3 linked regions of the Homo sapiens genome follow. The protein of the gene in region 1 interacts with the protein of each later gene in a pairwise test. Each region holds a gene or a part of one and is shown on either strand. Other genes may lie near its edges. The genes, in order: RHEBL1, ATXN1 and APPL1.

What was found.
Region 2: the proteins of RHEBL1 (region 1) and ATXN1 interact in binary tests that used the Homo sapiens proteins (3 or more experiments, as listed by UniProt).
Region 3: the proteins of RHEBL1 (region 1) and APPL1 interact in binary tests that used the Homo sapiens proteins (3 or more experiments, as listed by UniProt).

Annotation. Positions count from the first base shown.
Region 1 is NC_000012.12:49,066,889-49,074,984, forward strand, and holds the start of RHEBL1 (GTPase RhebL1), read right to left. Parts: upstream 3,092-8,096; 5' UTR 2,898-3,091; coding exon 2,846-2,897; intron 2,287-2,845; coding exon of another isoform or gene 2,219-2,286; coding exon 2,147-2,218; intron 148-2,146; coding exon 80-147; intron 1-79.
Region 2 is NC_000006.12:16,324,383-16,331,487, forward strand, and holds part of ATXN1 (ataxin-1), read right to left. Parts: intron 4,089-7,105; 5' UTR 4,050-4,088; coding exon of another isoform or gene 3,960-4,049; 5' UTR 3,929-3,959; coding exon 2,012-3,928; intron 1-2,011. Other genes in the region: uncharacterized LOC127903862, read right to left, coding at 3,960-4,049. UniProt on the Homo sapiens protein: Chromatin-binding factor that repress Notch signaling in the absence of Notch intracellular domain by acting as a CBF1 corepressor. Binds to the HEY promoter and might assist, along with NCOR2, RBPJ-mediated repression. Binds RNA in vitro.
Region 3 is NC_000003.12:57,265,630-57,272,734, reverse strand, and holds part of APPL1 (DCC-interacting protein 13-alpha), read right to left. Parts: intron 4,994-7,105; coding exon 4,943-4,993; intron 4,394-4,942; exon of another isoform or gene 4,338-4,393; coding exon 4,248-4,337; exon of another isoform or gene 3,195-4,247; coding exon 3,048-3,194; 3' UTR 1-3,047. UniProt on the Homo sapiens protein: Multifunctional adapter protein that binds to various membrane receptors, nuclear factors and signaling proteins to regulate many processes, such as cell proliferation, immune response, endosomal trafficking and cell metabolism.

The sequences.
Region 1 (8,096 bases):
CGGATGAGCCACAAAGACTACCAGACTTCATCTCCGAGGGCTGAACTGCCACATTTGGATACCATACCCCAACTGGTACCTGCCCTGCTGTGTCCACCAGATGTAGGTGAAACTCATCTTTGCCAAGAGTCACTATCTTGCTGTAAGCTGAAAAGAAAAGAAAACTTGACTGTGAAGTGCCTTATAGGACCAGCGATGTATGTCCCCTGACTTTTTTTTTTTTTTTTTTTTGAGACAAGAGTCTCACTCTATTGTCCAGGCTGGGCTGCAGTGGCATGATCTCAGCTCACTGCAACCTCTGCCACCCGGGTTCAAGCTATTCTCCTGCCTCAGCCTCCCGAGTAGCTGGGATTACAGGGACCTGCCACCATGCCCGGCTAATTACATTTTTTTTTTTTGAGATGAGGTCTTGCTATGTTGCCCAGGCTGTAGAGCAGTGGCTATTCACAGGCGCACTCTTAGCACCCTATAGCCTGGAACTCCTGGGCTCAAGCAATCCTGTCACCTCAGCCTCCCAAGTAGCTGGAACTACAGGTGTGCACCTCTGCACCTGGCTGTCTCCTTACCTTTTTTTTTTTTTTTGGCAGCATTTTTTAAAGTAGATTATTGGTTGGGCGCAGTGGCTCACACCTGTAATCCCAGCACTTTGGGAGGCCAGGGCAGGCGGATCACTTAAGACCAAGAGTTTGAGACCAGCCTGGCCAACATGGTGAAACCCTGTCTCTACTAAAAATACAAAAAATTAGTTGGGCATGGTGGTGCATGCCTGTAGTCCCAGCTACTCAGGAGGGTGAAGCGTGAGAATTGCTTGAACCCAGGAGGTGGAGGTTGCAGTGAGCTGAGATTGCGGCACTGCACTCCAGCCTGGGTGACAGAGCGAGACTGTCTTGAAAAGAAAAGAAAAATAAAGTAATTACTTTTGTTTTATTGATGAATAATAGATGTACCAAGTTTCAGGGTACATGTGACAATTTAATACATTCATATAATTTGTAAAGATCAAATAAGTGTATCTGGAATATTCATCACCTTAAATATTTGGCTTTTCTTTATGCTAGAACCATTTGAATTCTTCTCTTCTAGCTATTTTGAAATGTAAAATAGCTTATTGTAAGCTATAGTCACCCTACTGATCTACTAAGTCTTATTTCTTCTATCAAACTATATATTTGTACCCATTGATCAATTTATCTTCATCCCTCCCACTCCCTTCCCCCTTACATTCTTTTTATTCTTTTTTTTTTTTCTTTTTTTTCTTGAGACATTGCTTCACTCTTGTTGCCCAGGCTAGAGCGCAGTGGCACGATCTCGGCTCACTGCAACCTCCGCCTCCCAGGTTCAAGCAATTCTCCTGCCTCAGCCTCCCGAGTAGATGGGATTACAGATGTCCATCACCATGTCCGGCTAATTTTTTGTATTTTTAGTAGAGACGGGGTTTCACCATGTTGGCCAGGCTGGTCTCGAACTCTTGACCTCAGGTGATCCACCTGCCTTGGCCTCCCAAAGAACTGGGATTACAGGCATAAGCCACGGTGCCCAGCTTTTTTTTTTTTTTTTTTTTTTTTTTGAGACAGTCTCACCCTGACACCCAGGCTGGTGTGCAGTGGCACGACCTTGGCTCACTGCCACTTTTGCCTCCTGGGTTCAAGCGATTCTCCTACCTCAGTCTCCTTTGTAGCTGGGATTACAGGCGTGCGCCACCATGCCCAGCTAATTTTGGTATTTTTAGTAGAGATGAGGTTTCACCATGTTGGCCAGGTTGGTCTCGAAATCCAGACCTCAATCCATCCGCCCGCCTCAGCTTCCCAAAGTGCTGGGATTACAGGCATGAGCCACTGCGCCCAGCCTCCCCTTACATTCTTAACCTTGGGGGTGACACAGATAGATCAGCTCCAGGGAGTTATCCAGGTAACTGGAAAGACACGCTAAGGTTCTTAATGTCTACATCTAAACTATCCCAGACTCAATATCTTGCAAAATCCATACTCTAGCCATCCATCGAACAGGATTGCTAAAGAAGAAATCAGATGTAATGTCTAAATAAATCAGCCCCTTGGCACCAGAGAAATAAATTATGGAGTTGGGTGGGGTATCCAAGCCCTCCGGGTCGCATACCACCAGCACACTAGGGGAGAAGTCTACTCACTATTCTCCACTGTAGGATCGTAGCCTTCCGAGAACTCGCCTTCCACAAATTGATGTGCCAAAGATGTCTTCCCTGTGGGGAGCAGTGTGACAGTTGTATCCAAATCATCCATCCACATTCACATCCTCTGTCCTTTCGGACTGTGGCCCAGGACCAAAGGAGACCCCAAATTAACACCACAGTCTGTGAGTGCCTCAAGCAATGCTATCCTTTGTGTCTACCCTCACCCTCTTTTCACCCAGGGTCTCCGCACTTTGGCTACCGGATGCATTCAGAAGCGCAGCAGGAAGCCTTTCCCGCCGCCTTCCCCACCCCATCCCACTCGTAGGAAGATCCAAGATTCCCTAGGATCAAGTCCGCCCCGCCCCAGGACACCTGCGACTATCTGTCCCCACGGAGACCGCGTCCCGGTTTTCAAATTGTGACCCCACCCCTATCCCCAAAGTAACGCTGGGACCACTCTGAGATTCCCGCAGCCAGGTCCGCATTAACCCTTAAGTGCTCCCGCTTCCTGCAGCCTCCACACACCACCAACTCTTCCAATCCTCCACTCTTCCATTCCTCCACTCTTCCAATCCTCGCTCTACAACCCCATCCTTACGATGTCATCATTCCTCCCTGGGTCGCGTTCCCACGGCAGCGCGCCTCTTCTGGCTACAAAGCTGCTGCGCGTCCGAGCTCTGCAGGGCGGAGACTCACCTACACAGCGGTATCCGAGGATGACCACCTTCCTGTAGCGGACTAGCGGCATGGCAGGAGCCCGCCCCAGGGGCTTGCGGAACTGCGGGCTCAGAGAGCCCGAAAACGAGGTCAGGGTGTGAGCAGGCGCGGCAGCTGGTGCAGGAAAGTCGCTCACCCCGAAGCTGCCGTGGGCAAGTTAGAAGGAAACCAAAACAAGCGCCGCGCCCGGAGCTGCCCACGTGATCACAACACAGCACGTCTAACGCCAGGGAGCCGGGCGCCCGGGGAACTACTGAGCCGCGCCGCGCCGGGCTCCGCCCCCCAGGCCGCTCGCCATTGGTCCATTAGAATGGGTAAGGGCGGTGCCGCCAGCAGGAGGGAAGGGTGGGCCTCACGTGGAGCGGGAGAACTGGGAGCTGCGCGTGCGCAGACTGGAGCCGGTTCATTCATAAAGAAACAGAAAGGAACCCGGGGTCCTAAAGGCGTTTGCGCATTTACAGCCTAGCTGAAGTGGCTTCGAAGAATTATGGATGGAAAATACCCGTTTTGTGGTTTCCGGTCATAAGATTCTAGCCCTCCCTTTTGCATGGTCTCTGGGGTCCTTAGATAGGGAGAAAACCGCCAAAGTTCTAGTATATTCCTTCTGCTTCCCCCAGCCTTCAGCCCCAGACCTATCAAGGTTTCCAGTCTTCCAGCATCTAATTTCAAACTGCAATTCTTATTCTTGCAGAAATTGCTAGAATTTATGATCAAGTAGTCTGAGGTTTCTTCTTCATCATCATGATCCTCAAATATTCATTTTTCAACAAATACTGAGTATATACTACATGTTTCAGGCATTGCTCCAGCTTTGGGGTCAGAACATGGACATCACAGACAATGTGTCTGCTCTTATGAAGGGAGAAACAAACATACAACAAGGAAATATCAGAGAGTGTTAAGTGCTGTAGAAGATGGTGTGATGAAAGATGACCACTTTATTTTTTTTATTTTTTTATTTTTATTTTTATTTTTTTTGAGACGGAATCTCGCTCTTTCTACCAGGCCGGAGGGCAGTGGCTCTATCTCGGCTCACTGCAAGCTCCGCCTCCCGGGTTCACGCCATTTTCCTGCCTCAGCCTCCAGAGTAGCTGGGACTACAGGCGCCCGCCACCGCGCCCGGCTAATTTTTTGTATTTTTAGTAGAGACGGGGTTTCACCGTGTTAGCCAGCATGGCCTCCATCTCCTGACCTCGTGATCCGCCCGCCTCGGCCTCCCAAAGTGATGGGATTACAGGCGTGAGCCACCGCGCCCGGCCGACCACTTTATTTTTTAAAGACAATACAGCATTTTTAATTTTTTTTCTTTATTTATTTTGAGACAGGGTTATGAGACTGGCTAATTTTTGTATTTTGGGGAGAGATGGGGTTTTGCTATGTTGCCCAGGCTGGTCTCGAACGCCTAGCCTCAAGTGATCCACCTGACCCGGCCTCCCAAAGTGCTGGGATTACAGACGTGAGCCACCGAGCCTGGCTGAGATGACCACTTTAGTGATACTTTCTCTCATAGGAAACCCCATTTAAACTAAGATCTGAAGGAACCAACTAGGAGATTTCACAAGAAGAATCCACCAATGCTAAGGCGTTAAGATGGAAATAAATTGGGTAAATTCCAGGAAGAGGGGAAGAAAAAAAGAAAGCCAGTTAGCCTAAAGCAGATGAAGTCTAAGAGAATGGCAGAGGCCAGGCCACATAAAGGAGTCTGGGCTAATTCTAAGTACTTGAAGGTATTTAAGCTGGGGCATGACATGATCTAAATTGTCTTTCTAAAAAATCTCCCTGGCTGTAGTGAATAGATTGGGGTTTGAGGGTAACAGGAGCAAAAGGAAGCAGGGAGATTGGCGAGGAAACTGTTACCTGTAGTCCAGGTGAGAGATGAGAGCGCTTGACTAGAGTGATCATGTTGAATGAAGTTGAGAATTCAGGATATTCTGAAGCTAAGGTTAAAATGACTTGTGGAAGGATTGGTAGAGGAGGGAAGAAAGGAAGGAAATCACCTAGATTTATAGAGAGTTCGACTATACTATGTGCCAGGTGCATTTTATTGTTATCTCATTTAATATTCACAAAAGCCCTAGGCCGGGCATGGTGGCTCATGCCTGTAATCCCAGCACTTTGGGAGGCTGAGGTGGACGGATCGCTTGAGGTCGGGAGTTCGAGACCAGCCTGTCCAACATAGTGAAACCCCGTCTCTACTAAAAATACAAAAATTAGCCGTGCGTGATGGTGCATGCCTGTAATTCCAGCTACTCAGGAGGCTGAGGCAGGAGAATCGTTTGAACACGGGAGGCAGAGGTTGCAGTGAGCCGGGATTGCACCATTGTACTCTGCACTCCAGCCTGGGAGACAGAGTGAGACTCCATCTTAAAAAAATATATATATATATATATATATATATTCATCTTCTACTTTGTGCCAGGCACTCTTACTATGTGTTGCACACTAGGATACAGAAATAAATAACAGATGCCTTTTATACTGCTTGTCCCGTCCATATGAACTCTCCATTCTTTTCCACCCAGATTTATGTCCAGGAGGCAGACCTTGTCTCCTGGCTTTCAGTGAAGCTCAGCCAAAGGAAAGCACACACAGAAGATTCAATGGACAGAGGAGAGTGGCTCTGTCCCCCATTGAAGGTCACAGTACCTCTCAAGGCAGCTGCCTCCTCCAACACACACACACACAGCTCTCTCCTGGTTTTCAGTGACTCCCCTCAGCCTTTATGCCTATAGCAGTATCAGCCTCTTTTCTGTTATTCACCTTGGGGCATTGCTCTATCTGTTGTGGTCTCCCTATACCCTGCCCACATCTTTGTAAATAGTCTCTTTATTAAACCATCTGAATTCTCCTGTTTTGAATCAGAGAGAAAGCAAAAGAGCCAAGGCAAAGGGCTTTCTCCTCTTGTGACTTTTTCTTTTTACCTGGTAAGGGAAGCTCTCACAGCAGATATTCACCTACATCTCATTGAACAAGATTGTTTTATATAGTCATTTCTAGTTGTAAGGGAACCTGGAAATTTTAGCATTTTCTTTTCCAATGTCTATAGTAAAGGAAGGCAAAAGACAATGTGATTATAAATAAATGTTTTGGCCTGACGTGGTGGCTCAGGCCTGTAATCCCAGGACTTTGGGAGGCCATACAGGTGAATTGCTTGAGCTCAGGAGTTCGAGACCAGCCTAGGTAGGCAACATGGCAAAAGCCTGTTGCTATAAAAAATACAGAAAAAAAAAAGAAGAAAAATTAGCCGGGCATGGTGGCACGTGCCTGTAGTCTCAAGCTACTTGGAAGGCTGAAGTGAAAGGATCACCTGAGCCCAAGGAGGTTGAGGCTGCAGTGAGCCATGTTTGTGCCACTGCACTCCATCCTGGACAACAAAGACCCTGTATCAAAAAAAAAAAAAAAAAAAAAAAAAAAAAAAGAAGCTAGGCACGGTGGCTCACGCCTGTAATCCTAGCACTTTGGGAGGCCAAGGCGGGTGGATTGCCTGAGCTGAGCTCAGGGTTTCGACACCAGCCTGAGCAACACAGCGAAACCCGGTATCTACTAAAATATAAAAAATTAGCTGGGGCCGGGCACAGTAGCTCACGCCTGTAATCCCAGCACTTTGGGAGGCTGAGGCAGACGGATCACCTGAGATCAGGAGTTTGAGACCAGCCTGGCTAACATGGTGAAACCCCGTCTCTACTAAAAATAGAAAAATTAGCCAGGCATGGTGGTGCATGCCTGTAGTCCCAGCTACTCAGGAGACGGAGGCAGGAGAATCGCCTGAACCTGGGAGGTGGAGGTTGCACTGAGCCGAGATCACGCCACTGCACTCCAACCTGGGCAACAGAGCGAGACTCCATCTCCAAAAAAACAAAAAAATAAATGTTTCATGAGCCAATCTATAAAACCTGCACATTTTAGGACCAAGATATTGGTTGATTAAATAGTTGTTCATTAAATATCAATCACTTTAAAAAGTAATGCATAGGCCGGGCACAGTGGCTCACACATGTAATCTCAGCACTTTGGGAGGCTGAGGCAGGTGAATCATCAGGTCAGGAGTTTGAGACCAGCCTGACCAACATGGTGAAACTCTGTCTGTACTAAAAATACAAAATTTAGCCGGGCATGGTGGGAGGCACCTGTAATCCCAGCTACTCGGGAGGCTGAGGCAGGAGAATCACTTGAACCTGGGAGATGGAGGTTGTAGTGAGCCAAGATTGCGCCACTGCATTCCAGGCTGGCTGACAGAGCGAGACTCTGTCTCAAAAAAAAAAAAAGTAATGTACAAATGGTTTATTTAGTAAAGATCAAAAAAATAGGATCAAATAAAGGAAAAATAGAACTTGGAGATAAGTCAAAAAAATATTTTAAAATATTATATATAAATATTATTTAATAGATAATAAACATATTTATTATATATTATTTATATAATAATAATATAAATAAAGGAAGCAATTCATCCTAATGTTAGATAAATGGGCTTGGAATAAGATTTTTTTTGTTTTTTATTATTTTTACTTTTTTTTATTTATTTATTTTTGAAACAGGGTCTCACTCCAATTGCCCAGGCTGGAGTGCAGTGGCATAATTTTGGCTCACTGCAGCCTCTACTCCTCAGCTCAGGTGATTCTCCTACCTCAGCTTCCTGAGTAGCTGAGACTACAGGCATGCACCACCATGCCCAGCTAATTTTTGTATTTTCAGTAGAGATGGGGTTTCACCATGTTGTTTAGGCTGGTCTCAAACTCCTGGACTCAAGCAATCCACCCACCTCAGCCTCCCAAAGTGCTGGGTTTACAGATGTGAGCCACCGCTCCCAGCCTGTTTTTGTGTTTTAGAGACAGGGTACCACTCCGCCACCCAAGCTGGAGTGCAGTGGTGCCATCATAGCTCACTGTGGCCCATAACTCCTGGGCTCAAGTGATCCTCTTGCCTCAGCCTCCTGAGTAGCCTAAGACTATACAGGCATGCACTGCCATGCCCAGCTAATTTTTTTTTTTTTTTTTTTTGTAGAGATGGGGTCGCTCCCAGGCTAGTCTTGAACTCCTGGCCTCAAGCAATCCCTCCTCAGCCTCCCAAAACACTGAGATTACAGACATGAGCCACCAAGCCTGGCCTGAAATAACATTTCTAGGACAGCATCATACATTGCTATGTCTCAAACAACTGAGACAAAATAAAGATAAGATGTTCCCAGAAAACTGTTTTAAGTATCTCTGGGAAAAGTGAAAAATGTCTC
Region 2 (7,105 bases), on another chromosome or scaffold:
CAAGGCCACAGTGAGCTATGATTGCACCACTGCATTCCAGCCTAGGAGACAAGAAACACTGTCTCAAAAATGAAAAAAAAAAATGCCCAAAACAATTCAAACCATTAATTAGTTTATCTTTTTTTTCTTGTTTTATTTTATCTGAATGTCCCAAATAGCAGCTATTTCATGACTATTTTCAACTCAAGCTGGAAGGAGGCTCTGTCCCATTTGAATGTTTTCAAATCCTAGATGGAAACACTTGTAGAAAGTACGCTCGATAGCCAGGAAAGCTCTCAGCTGCAGGCTGAACCTGCTGGACTCCCAGCAACTTGGGCAGTGAAAGAAATGGGCTGTGGAATAAATGCATGTAATCGATCTAAGAACCTGGAAAAGGGTAGATTGAAGGAGCCTGTGGAAATTAAGAGCGTTAACCATACTTCCAGTGACTCATCTTGGCTACAGCTGACTTTACCCCAAGCCCAGCAGGTCACCTGGGACAGCCCTGACTTCTCAGATTGTATTAACCACGCTTTTATTTTCTGATGCTTTGATATTTTAGTGTCTTGTGGATCCCAGAGGTATAGTCTCTCCTAGGATTAGCTAATTCCTAGAGGCCTGACTTTTATATGCAAACCAACCAGTCCAGAGCTAATTCCTAGGAGCCTGACTTTCATATGCAAACTAACCAGTCCAGAGCCCACTCCCCAGCAGCCTCCTATATTGGTCCATCACACTTAGGGCTGCCTTCCATCTGTTTTTTTTTTTTTGTCTGAGACAGAGTCTTGCTGTGTGTCCAAGGCTGGAGTGCAGTGGCCTGATCTCGGCTCACTGCAATCCCCACCTCCCGGGTTCATGCAATTCTCCTACCTCAGCCTCTGGAGTAGCTGGGATTACAGGCACACACCACCATGCCCGGCTAATTTTTGTATTTTTAGTAGAGACAGGGTTTCACCATGTTGGCCAGGCCGGTCTCGAACTCCTGACCTCTGGTGATCCACCCGCCTCAGCCTCCCAAAGTGCTGGGATTACAGGTGTGAGCCACTGTGCCCAGCCCTTCCACCTGTATTGATCACCCCAGCACCAGCAGCCAGACAACTAAGGACAGCCCCTACACCCCAGAGCACACTGGAATTATCCACTCTAACCAATCCTAAACCCGTTTACCCTGCCTCCCATGAAACCACAATAAAGGCTGTTGTTTGCCACATTTCCCCTCACTCCCTCCACCTCCTGACCCACCTGGGGCTTCCCCAGGTGCCCCCCACTTTACGGTGTTCTACACCTCTTGGTGTAGAGTGCCCTTTCCTCTTGGGATCAGAGAGTATAAAAATTATCTCGTCAAAGAGAGTTGTCTGCTGATCTATCTGTTGGCCTTATCATACCTAAATAATAAGACATTATATATATGTTGGAGACCGGGCCTTGCTATGTTGCCCAGGCTTGAGTGCAGTGATAGTCACAGGTTCAGCCATAGCTCACTACAGCCTCGAACTCCTGGGCTCAAGTGATCCTCCTGCCTCAGTCTCTGGAGTAGCTGGGACCGAAGGCATATACCACTGTACCCAGCTAATAAGACATATTTTAAAACATGGATGTTGCAATGGGATATGATTGCTTTAGCATCTAATCCCCTCACTCCAACGGCATCCTCTGTCTTTTCCTGGTAAGAAAAAGTGCCGAATGACCACTAGAAGGACCTGAAGTCCAGCAGCGTTTCCTAATCAGGGTTCCTCATCTTAATCACAGAATTCAAAAAATAACTAGAGTGGTGAGTTTCTGGATTGTCTCAAGGACTCCATAACTAGCCCCACTCTCCATGCATGGAGGTTAATTCATTACACACAGCAGAGATCACGGGGAAATGGGGCTTATTTTTTCTAGAGAACGCAGTTGGGAAAGGCCGAGTCTAAGGTCTAGGTGTACCCGAGAACCCTTAATCCTGCCTCATAGAAGCAATTCGTCTTGCCAGGAGATGATGATGGCATCACGGTGTGGTGTCCCATCCCTGTGCCACCCTGGCTAACGTTACCTGGGCTCGGTGCTCCCCGACGGCGAACTGTATCACGGCCACGCCCGGGCTATGGCTGTCTTCAATCCTCTCTACGGTGCTGGAGTCGATCTTCAGGTCGTTGCTTATCTCTGCACTCTGGATGAAATCTTCTGTTTTTAAGTCTTCCACCTTCTTTAGCTCCCCGTTGGCCAACTGGATGATGGAGCCTTTCATGAAGTAGGGAGGCAGCGTAGGGGGAGCCGCCGCCGGGGAGGCCACGGACTGCACCACAGGCAGGTGGATCTGGGCCTGCACCATGGCTGGGTAGGCGGCCTGGGTGACCAGGGCCTCAGGGTTGAAGTTCTCGCTCTTGGGAAGGGCGGTGGTGACGAACGTGTGAGGCACTGCAGCAAACTGGGGGGATGACGTGACTATGGCCGGGGCTGCCCCCGACGCTTCCATGTCAGTGCTGCCGACCGGGATGAGCAGGGGCTGTGTGCCGGGGATCACCAGGTGCTGGGGCAGGCTGCCGGCGTAGGTGATTGCTTGCTGCTGGCCGCTCAGGTAGCCGATGACAGGGGGTTGAGTCCCTGCGTAGAAGGCCGTGGCTGGCAGTCCCACCGGGAGTGGCTCTGAAGCACTGTGTGTGGTCTGAATGACCGTGTGGGGTGAGAGCGCGTAGGACCGGTGGCCAGGCTTCCCTAAATGCAGGCCACTTTTGTCGTTGAGGGTAGAAGGGGAGGCTTCACGATGAGTGGCCTGTTGCACCTCCAGGTCAGCTGCGGGCGTGTTGCTGTTGGGCAGGACCATCACAGAGGCCCGGACCCCCGAAGGATCACGACTGCTGTAGTCTGAGGGGCTCGGGTGGACCACCACGTGCCTGGACTCGTACGGGTGAGGAACCGACTTGCCGCCTGCCTTGCCCAGGCCCAGGTCGGCTGAGGACGGGGCCCCGTACCGCCGGCTCTTCTCCATCTCACCGTTCAGGACCTCCTTGGCCTGGATGGCCTGCTGCAGCCGGCTGCTCTCAGCTTTCTTGGTGGCCTCCCGAGGGACAAAGTGGCTGCCGGAGTCGGCGTATTGCATGACGACCTGGGAGGGGGGCCCCAGGGTGAGCGTGTGTGGGATCATCGTCTGGTGGGGGTGGAGGTGGACGGGGATGGCCGGAGGAGAGGCGGTGCGGCCGGTGTTCTGCGGAGAACTGGAAATGTGGACGTACTGGTTCTGCTGGGCTGGTGGGGGGGACCCCGGGGTGATGAGCCCCGGAGCCCTGCTGAGGTGCTGCTGCTGCTGCTGCTGCTGCTGCTGCTGCTGCTGCTGCTGATGCTGATGCTGCTGCTGCTGCTGCTGCTGCTGCTGCTGCTGCTGCTCAGCCTTGTGTCCCGGCGTCTGGCTCAGACTGCCCATGTTGGCCAGCAGAGTGGAATAGGCCTCCAGCTGGGAGCGCTGGGATGGAGTGGTGGCCCCTGCGGCCGAGGCCACTGCACTGGTGACGGGGTTGGCGGTTGGGGGGATCAGCTGTGATGGGATGAAGCTGGCATAGGTTCCACTGTATTGGGAGGACCCAATGAACTGGAAGGTGTGCGGCAGGTGAGCGTACTGCACGGGGGACACCGGGGTCCCTGGCTGCGGGGTGGCGTACGCGGCAGGCAGCGTGGTGGCCACGGGGACAGACCTGGGAGCGCTGGGCGGGGAGTAGTCCAGCCCTGTGGACAATGCTTTGTGTAAACCTATTCCCTGTTGTAAACCAAGCTCCACCGAGGTCCCTGCCGGCCCATGCCTCCCGCCCCCGTGGCCCCGGCCACCAGGGTTGCCCGGGAGCCATGCTGTGCCCTCCACCCGGTGGTTGTCGCTGGGCAGGGTAGGGGCCTTCTCCTCGGAGGACCGGCTGGTGGCGGGGATCTCGCGCTTCTTGGGAGGCAGGCATTCGTTGCTCCGCTCTTGGTTGGATTTCATTTTTCGCCGTCCCCCCTCCACGGTGACTGTTTCACTGTCTGGATGGCTCTGATTTTAGTCTGATAAACGGAAAGTCACATTTGATTTCTGTAGGGGATCCAGGCTCTTCATGAGGAATCATCTCCCCGTGGGTACAATCCGCCAACAGCAGCTCTGGATGCTGGGAAAGGGAAGAGGGCAGTGACAAAGGGAAAAGGAAAGGGAGGAGAAAGGGAAGGAGGGAAAGGACATCAGAACATGAGCACCGGGGAAAGAACATCTTTGGCAAGATTAAGACTAGGCCCTGGACTCGGTGTGAACTCCCATAACCCAATCATACCCCAAGCACTGAAGCAGAGAAAACACTAGCCAACACTTTGGGAGGCCGAGGCAGGCAGATCACGAGGTCAGGAGATTAAGACCATCCTGGCTAACATGGTGAAACCCCGTCTCTACCAAAAATAAAAAATAAAAAACAAATTTAGCCTGGTGTAACATTAGCTGGCACACGGCTGTAGTCCCAGCTACTTGAGAGGCTGAGGCAGGAGAATTGCTTGAACCCAGGAGGCAGAGGTTGCAGTGAGCCGAGATTGCACCATTGTACTCCAGCCTGGGCAACAGAGCGACACTCTGTCTCCAAAAACGAAACAAAACAACAACAACAAAAACAAAAACACTAGCCGTGGCAGCTGCACATTATAAAGGAAGATTATGAAGACACTGGGCAAGTGAACACTGTAACACATATATTTTTTAATGGAGTTAACAACTCCCCTAAGATGTTCTCAATACCCTCTCTCCTGTTTTTTTTTCTCCTTTTCTTCTTCAAGGGCAGATGATGCAGTTCTTAAATTTCCTTTTCAGAAATGTTGGTTCCATTTCTCACCTCTCCTTTGCCTGGCTGGAACATAAAATGAAGCCCTTGGAGAGCATGACACCAGCTGGACCCTGCCCTCAGAGCCAGGCACTGAGAAAAAGCAGGTTAGCAGTGAAAGTCCAGAACAGTCCTTGCACTCGATTTCTGAATCCTCATCTGCCAGAGCCACTACTCTCCAAGATTCCCCTTAGCTCTGGGTCCACACTGGACCTACGATTTCCTCTCCCTAATACACACACACACAAACACACACACACACGCCAACTCAGCAGAGGCCGCCAGAAATAATCCTGTTCTCTGCAAGTTTCAAAAGAATTCCCAGTACAGCCACTCATATGATGACGGAGTGAGACTGTTAAAAACCGAATTTGATTATGGTTAAAAAACCCAAATACCATACAAAAATAGGGCTAGTGCACTGAATGTTTTCTCAGTGGGTTACATGCTTGGTTTGTCCATCTCTCTCTTCCTTTTCAAGTTGTCATTGAAGTTCCCCTTCACACCGTCCCCTTTCTCATTGGAAAGTAACAACTCGCCATTAACACTAGAGACGACAGCTCTTTCAGACAAATCAGATCAGTGTGTTCAAACCTGGACATACAAATGGTGACCCTGGAGCCAGTTCTTATGGTCAAGTATCTCAGTCTCTTACTAACCACTGAAGTCTGAGTTACTGCTGCTGTGTGGGCAAACCAATGCCCAACAGACAAGAGGCCAAATATCAGTGGAACTGACATGACCCAGGCTAGCAAGCAGCGGATGTGATTGCTTCCACAGGTAGCAGCTGTAGGTATGCACAGTGCAACATGCTGTGATTCTGAGAGCTGTGGGATTGGGCTTTGGGAATTCCACACCCTTGGGTTTTGGTATCTCACATCCAGACCCTCTTTTCAATGATCTGATTTTCTTTCTTTCTTTCTTTCTTTCTTTGGAGAGATGGGGTCTTGCTATGTTAACCAGGCTGGTCTTGAAATCCTGGCCTCAAGAAATCCTCCTTCCTTGGCCTCCCAAAGTGCTAGGATTCCAGGCATGAGCCACTGTGTGTAGCCAATGATCCGATTTTAAAACAAACACAATAAAGTAGCGGCCTTCAGCATTCAATCCTTGTCCATGTTGGAGCAACACTGAAATCCCTACTGAAACATAACCCCCTTTCTCTACTCTGCCCCCTACTTTGTAACTATTTTTTAGAGGGGGCAATGATTTTTTTCCTTCCTTCCTTCCTTTTTTTTTTTTTTTTTTTGAAAAGGTCTTGCTTCGTTGCTCAGACTGAAGTGCAGTGGCGTGATCTCGGCTTGCTGCAACCTGTGCCTCCTGGGCTCAAGTGATCCTCCCACCTCAGCCTCCCAGGTAGCTGGGACTACAGGTGCACGCCACCACACCCGGCTAATTTTTGTACTTTTTGTAGAGGTGGGGTTTTGCCATGTTGGCCAGGCTGGTCTTGAACAGGCCTCAGTGATCCACCCACTTGGCCTCCCGGTGCTGGGATTACAGGCATGAGCCACTGCAGCCAGCTTGGAAGGGGCAATGATTTAATGGCCCTTATTGGTTTTGCTCCAACATCATCAATGAACATCATAATGAAATGACAAATGATACAACAGAAAGTTCTCAATCCTTAATGATTTTGATCAGATATCTAGGAAGGTGCAGGTTTAGAAATTTGGTGTCTCGATATCAAAGGACATTTCAGTAAGAATAGAATTTCTCATATGACAAGAGAGGCGCTTAAAGACTGGGACGGAAATGAAAAATAAGGTTAAAAAAACCCTAAAACACTTATGCTGAAGAAATGAAGTGTTGAAGGAGTAATGTCACTTATTTACTCTCGCAACCCAGGTGTTTTTTTTTTGAGATGGAGTCTCACTCTGTCGCCCAGGCTGGAGGGCAATGTGCCAATCTCGGCTCACTGCAACCTCCGCCTCCCGGGTTCAAGCGATTCTCCTGCCTCAGCCTCCTGAGTAGCTGGGATTATAGGCGGCTGCCGCCATGCCTGGCTAATTTTTGTATTTTTAGTAGAGGCGGAGTTTCACCATGTTGGCCAGGCTGGTCTCGAACTCCTGACCTCAAATGATCCACCAGCCTCTACCTCCCAAAGTGCTGGGATTACAGGCGTGAGCCACTGCGCCCTGCCCACCTAGGGTTTTTGTAAGTGACAAATAACTGTGTTCTGTACAGCCTTCCCTTGTAAAAAGAAGTTCTAATAATGAACTTTTATCTTTAAATTTCAAGACTCACTCTTAAGAAAGGGAATGCCAAACGCTCCCACATTTCCATACCAACGAGCAAGGAAAACTCATGCGTGAGACCTACTCAGAGAG
Region 3 (7,105 bases), on another chromosome or scaffold:
CCAGCTACTCGGGAGGCTGAGGCAGGAGAATGGCGTGAACCTGGGAGGCGGAGTTTGCAGTGACCCAAGATCACACCACTGCACTCCAGCCTGGGCAACAGAGCAAGACTCTGTCTCAAAAAAACACTTTTTTTTTCATTTTATTCAGGTGGCAGGTTTTACAACATACTAGCTCTTAGGATCTCTCAGCATTAATAGGATTCAAATTTTAAATAATATGGTTCCTAGATATAATGCAAAATTAACTCAAATGCCTTTACCATATACGATTTTATCTTCCCTAGGATGCACATCCTACTGACCTTTTCCCAAGTATAGTGGAAACACATTTACCACCCCTAGATTGTAGAGCCTGAGGATTCTTTTGAAATTAAACAATAATCATTGCAGATGTGGCAAAAACTAGACTAGCTTTAGGGACTCTGTTCAAGATAATAGCTTTAATCCCTGGTTGGCAAGTTCTCAAAATTTTTAAAGGTAGAAGGAATAACTGGTTTCCTATCTACTGACTTCATTGCCATAGTTACAAACATACTGTTCAAATAGGTAACAGAATGCATTGTAGAAGTAGGCAGGCTTAATATCTTTTCTTTTTAAAAAGGAGTTTTGTTGATTTCTAACACCATTAAGTGTAAGTCTGAATGTGAGAAAAGATATCCCAAAATCGAATCCAGTTACCCTCAAAGCATCTCAGAACTAGAAGGGATTTCAAAGGAGGGTAACAATCAGCTTTACCACTAGGCAGAAACCCATGGGCAGCCTTTAAATAACAAAAAGAGCTTATTAAAACAGATACTTAAATCTCTGCAGTAATGGAATAGTTCATATAGTTCAACAGTAATGGAACAAAAGCTGAATCATCTAAAATTGTTAAACCCACTCATAACTTCTATTTAGCATTGGAATGCACTTCGATCTGACCTATGGAGATGATGGGTTTATTATTGTAGAAATTCCTGTGAACATGACTTAAAACGAACTACAGGTCTGTCCAGCATCCCTAAGTCTGCCAGTGCCTTAACTCTAGCCTACACTATGACCCAGGGTGCTGATAAAGGGCAGCACTTGCTACCATGCAAAGCACCAGCTTAGTAAAGCTGCCTCCTAATGATGAACACCTTCCTTGTAGAGTAACAGATTTCATCTGAACTAAGTGAGGTGACAATTTGTAGTATAAACAAAAGACTTAATGGAACAGAAAGCTCCAGTCTCCAAAAGGTCTTAAAAACAGGACTTGCCATGACTACTTAAATGCTGGCAACAGAATAAATTCCAACTTTAACAAAACAAAAGAACTGATACACTATTGTGAAAGCATTCCTTTTGGTAAGCACAAAATAAACTTTTTATCAAAAGTATTTCATAAATTTCTACTTTTTTACTGTATGTTTTGGTAACATAAAGCATCAGTAAATAAACATTACACCCATTTGGCACATGGATAGAAGGAATATCATGATCCTATATATCATTATCCTATTCCTACAGAAAACAATGTACATATACAGTGTGAAACAGCTGAGTTATATTTTGAGACCTAAAACAGATGCCATTTCTAATGCAGAACTAAGAAGAAAAAACTGTATATCAAAGAAAAAAAAAGGCTTTTTCCCTTGTAAAATTATTAAAGTCTTAGTGGCTAACCTCTTGAAAAATTTGTAAATGTGTGACTATGTAAAGTATTTTACCCACTATATTAACTTTGTATATATATACTTTTTCATGTGAAACACATGAAAACATAATTTCTATTAGCAGTGTTAAAAGTGATTACAGAAAAAAAATTAAGGTTTAACATAAACAATAGGCAGTAGAGAAATGTTATTTTAACCTTGGCACCAGGTTAAATCCTTCCTTGGTCAACTTCTCCTATACTCTACTAGGCATTCAATTCATTTTCAATCTTTCACAAAATTGGACCTTTTACTCATTTGAAGAGTAGACATATTTACAATAATTAGTGCAAATTATTCTATTATCATACATTAGTTATTTGCCTTTGTGGATATAAAGTGGTGATTCAGTACTTTATCAAAACATGGCATTATGAAAATACTGGGAATATATCAGTCTGAAATTTAAAAGATTACATTTTCTAAACTAAACTCTGGGAATTTTTACTTTAAGCATGAAACATAATTGTTATAGAACTTCTTTTGAAATGTCACTTGACTTTCAATAAAAACTATTTCACACAATGCAGAAAATACAATGTATCATTCCATAGCAGTATCTTTACTTGTCAATCCTAATCTAAAATGTATTGAACAAAAATCTTTTAATAAATTCCAATATCTTATTTTTAACCACTACTGCTCTGCAGCAGTAATTGAAGTCCCAACCTGAGAACTAAGAATGTGATAATAAAATGCCAAGGGCTCTATCAATCTTGAACTGAAGACACTTAAGCTTCTTTCCTACTGGCATCAAGTGCAGTACATTAGAGAAATGTGAGCAATCCCAGAAAGTACCCTGAGATCAACAGTACCACCTGCCACAATTTGAAACCTTAACTGTAAAATCTCTGTTCTAATTATTTTATAAAAGTTCTATTGCACATTTAATATTGTTAAAATATTTGCAAACTTGTAGAATTCTCTGTATAAAGGGCTTTAAACTTATTCAGCTAAATGCTTCCTCATCACCAGCAAAATGTTCCTAATGAAAGAAAAGCATATCCATGAATGTCTAAGCCTGAAGAATAAATGATTTCTTATGGACACAGCCAATTACAATGCAAGAATTAAAAGTTCACAATTTGACGGAAAAAATTCTTGAGCAAATGTAATTCCTCAGCAGTCTGCTTCAGGGAGATGAGCAGGTTTCCTTTAGATGTTAATACATAGTACATTATGTTTAAGGGGGAAAAAAGATCAATGCAAACCTAAGTCATCAAGTTCAATCTTTTTTTTAAAATGTAGCTACAACAAATAAGCAAATATAAAGCTTAATCTCCTCCTTGATATTTCAACATAGTTGTTACCTTCTGCCATTTCACCATAGAAACTGTCAAATTCCAAGGGGGAATATCTACCAAAAGTATAAGCTTATGCTTCTGATTCTCTCTTCTTTCCTCCTTCTCCCAAATCACTCTCTTCTGACTGGCTACTGCTAAGGACAACAAACTGCCCCTCACTACTGGCTTGGTTTGGTCTACTGGAAGCAGCTATCAACCGACTTTGTTCTTCCAAGTCCTAGTGGAAAAGACAAAAAAGAAACTAAGTTACTTGTCTGCAGTCAAATGGCAAATTATGCAGTTAAGATACATTCTTGAGAGCCACTTCTTCTGTCATAAATATGTATGCATACTTCTGACAACTTGATAAAAAGAAAAGCTACACCCAAACAATACAACACCAAAATGAATTTTGGCACCATCCTATAAAAGCCAGCATTCAAACTAAAATCTAATATTTTATCTTTCTTTTTTTATGACCAACAACCAAATAAAGCCCATCATCAATCATCTCTCACTATATATTATAGTAAAACCCTCGAAAGGGATCACCCCCACACTCCTTTCCCTTCCCCTCTCCAGCCCTTTTCTCCATCCCTGTCCAATTCATCTTTGCTAAATCAGGTGTCACCTTCCCTCAGCCTCGCCTATCAAGAAAGCCTCACTTCAATGTCATCTTTGCCACTTCCCTCTTCTTTGTCCAGAGAGCCAGCCCACAGCCAATGCTTATTGATCTGTTCTAAGCATCCCAGCTGTCTCCTCTTTTCTATTCCTACTGTCAATCTACAACCCATAACACGCTCTTACAATTTCATGGATCATTTAATGCATTCTTCAAGTTTTGCTCTGAAATTTGTCTTTTAAAATTATTCTGTTGGATGGACAATGATTTGACACTCCTGGCAATATTAAAAATATACATTTCATTATATATTTCATATAACATATATATTTATTTATTTCCCCCCCATAGAAGGCAAAATGGCTTTCAGCAATGGCAGTTAAGTCTACACAGCCTCTCAACTGCTTTGACAGAGACAACCTCCTCTGAAATATTAAAGTTCTGGTATATTTTTGAAACAGTCATATTACATGTCAACGTAACTATAATGTAAACATCATATCAAAAAACAGATGTGACCCTTTTCTGCTATGGTATGAATCATCTGTTTATGAAGTGGCTGAACAAGCAGAAACAGCCCTTCATTTGGAAATTCAAATCTGAAAGTCATAGTGCTGAATTAAGTCTTCACAAACAACACATAAAGATCCAGACATTAGGACTGTATACCTTTTCAATCTGTTTTTGTTTATTGAGTTCTTTCTGTTGCTTCTCTTTTACTCTCTCTATTTCTTTTTGTTTTTCTGATGCCCTACGATCCTAAAGAACAGATGAATAAAACTAATGAATTAAATATGAAATAACTTTAAATTTTAGACATTTCAGTTAATATCACATGGTAACCTTTCAATATTTTTTTGCATTTATACATAAGAAAGCACATCAACAGTTTATATTCAATGGTAAACAATTATCCAAATTCTAAATGCTATGTTGGTAATAGTATCACTGTTAACCTTGCTTAGCAAAATCATTTTATTTACTTGCTAATATGAAAGAGCTAATATACTATTTTAGTTAACATTCTTGGAAAATCAAGCATCTTGGATTCCTTTTTTTTTTTTGAGATACAGTCTCGCTCTGTTGCCCAGGCTGGAGTGCAGTGGTGTGATCTCGGCTCATTGCAACCTCCGCCTCCCGGATTCAAGTCATTCTCGTGCCTCAGACCTCCTCAGTAGCTGGGATTACAGGTGCACGACACCACACCCAACTAATTTTTGTATTTTTAGTAGAAATGGGGTTTCACCATGTTGGCCAGGTTAGTCTCGAACTCCTGACCTCAAGTCATCTGCCCGCCTCGGCCTCCCAATGTGCTGCGATTACAGGTGTGAACCACTGTGCCCAGCCACATCTTGGATTCTTACCAGTTCAGCATGCAAAGCTATCTGTTTTGCCAGTCCAACAGAATCACATATCTAAAAAGAGAAAAAGTATGAAAAATTCAGGCAGTTCTCACAACAAAGCAAAAATGTCAAGTATCCAAATAACTGATGGAACTAGTTTTATAACTAATCCTAATACATTGCTTCAAGCAAAAGCATATTTAAGAATGCTCAAGCCCCCAAACCAAGGCTTTGTATGTTTTCCTTGAAGTCTACAGGATTCCACTGCTGACTCTCACCTTCATATATACCCCACTTCTTGTTATGTCAAATTCATTACTGTCACAGTAAGGCCTACGAGGAAGAAGCATGCAGCTGCTAATGCTATTCTCAGCTGAAGACATCTGAAAATGGCTGGTTTTGGTTCCCAACATAATGTTTGGTTCCCAACATAAATGAGAGGCTAAAAGATTGCACCAGCTATCAGTGGCAGGGAAAACATGGGTCTGTAGAGTCAGAAGGCCCAAACCATCAGCTTGGCTCTATTCAGAGATGCTTTGCTCAAGCAGCTCAGTAAGCCTAGGCAAAATTTGGGAGTTTTTTCCAAAAATCTTAGAATTATATAAGAATTTTATTTACACAAAAAACTACAAAACACTGATGAAAGAGACTGAAGACACAAAAGAACATCCCATGCTCATGGATCAGAATAATATAGTTAAAATAACCATATTGCCCAAAGCAATCTATAGGTTCAATGCAAATAGCCAAAGCAATCTTAAACAAAAAGAACAAAGCTGGAGGCATCACATTACCTAACTTCAAAATATATTACAAGGCTATAGTAAGCAAAACAGCAGGGGATTGTTATAAAAATAAGACACATGGCCAATGGAACAGAATAGAGAACCCAGGAACGAAGCCACTTGTTTACAGCCAACTGATCTTTAACAAAAGTGACAAAGAACTTTCACTGGGGAAGGGATATCCTCTTCAATAAATGGTTCTGGCAAGATTGGAGAGCCACATGTAGAAGAATGAAACCAGACCCCTCCCTCTCACCATACACAAAAATCAACTCAAAATACATTAAAGACTTAAACATAAGACCCAAAACTATAAAAATACTACAAGAAATTATAAGGATCAGAGCAGAAATAAATGAATCTGACATGAAGAAAACAATACAAAAGATCAACATAACAAAAAGTTGGTTTCTTTGAAAAGATAAAACTGACATTTAGCCAGACTAAGAAAAAGAAGACTCAAATAAAATTGGAGATTAAAAAGGTGACATTACAATTGATACTGCATAAATTCAAAGGATCATTCGTGGCTACTATGAGCAACTACATGCTAGTAAATTGGAAAATCAAGAAGAAATGGATAAATTCCTAGACAAATACAACCTACCAAGATTGAACCACGAAGAAATCCAAAACCTGAACAGTCCAATAACAAGTAACAAGATCCAAACCATAATAAAAAGTCTCCTGGTAAAGAAAAGCCCAGTACCTGATGGCTTTCCTGCTGAATTCTACCAAACATTTAAAGAAGAACTAATACCAATCTTACCCAAAATGTTCCAAAAAATAGAGGAGAAGGGAATACTTCCAAACTCATTCTACGAGGCCAGTATTACCTGATACCAAAACCAGACAAAGACATATCAAAAAAAGAAAACTACAGGCCAATATATCTCATGAATATTGATGCAAAAATCCTCAACAAAATACTAGCAAACCAAATTCAACAACACATTAAAAAGATCATTTATCATGACCAAGTGGGATTTATCCCAGGAATGCAAAGATAGTTCAACATATGCAAATCAATCAATATGCTACATCACATCAACAGAATAAAGGACAAAAACTATTTAATCATTTCAATTACTGCTGAAAATGCATTTGATAAAGTTCAACATCCCTTCATGATTAAAAACCCTCAAAAAAACTTGGTATAGAAGGAATATAGCTCAACATAATAAAAGCCATATATGACAGACTCACAGCTAGTATCATACTGAATGCAGAAAAACAAAAAGCCTTTCCACCTTTTAGATGGAAGATGAGTAATCAGGTAAGAGAGGAAAAAAGGCATCCAAATTGTAAAGGAAGAAGTCAAACTATCCTTGTTTGCAGATGATATGATGATCTTATATTTAGAAAAACCTAGACTCCACCAAAAAACTATTAGAACTGA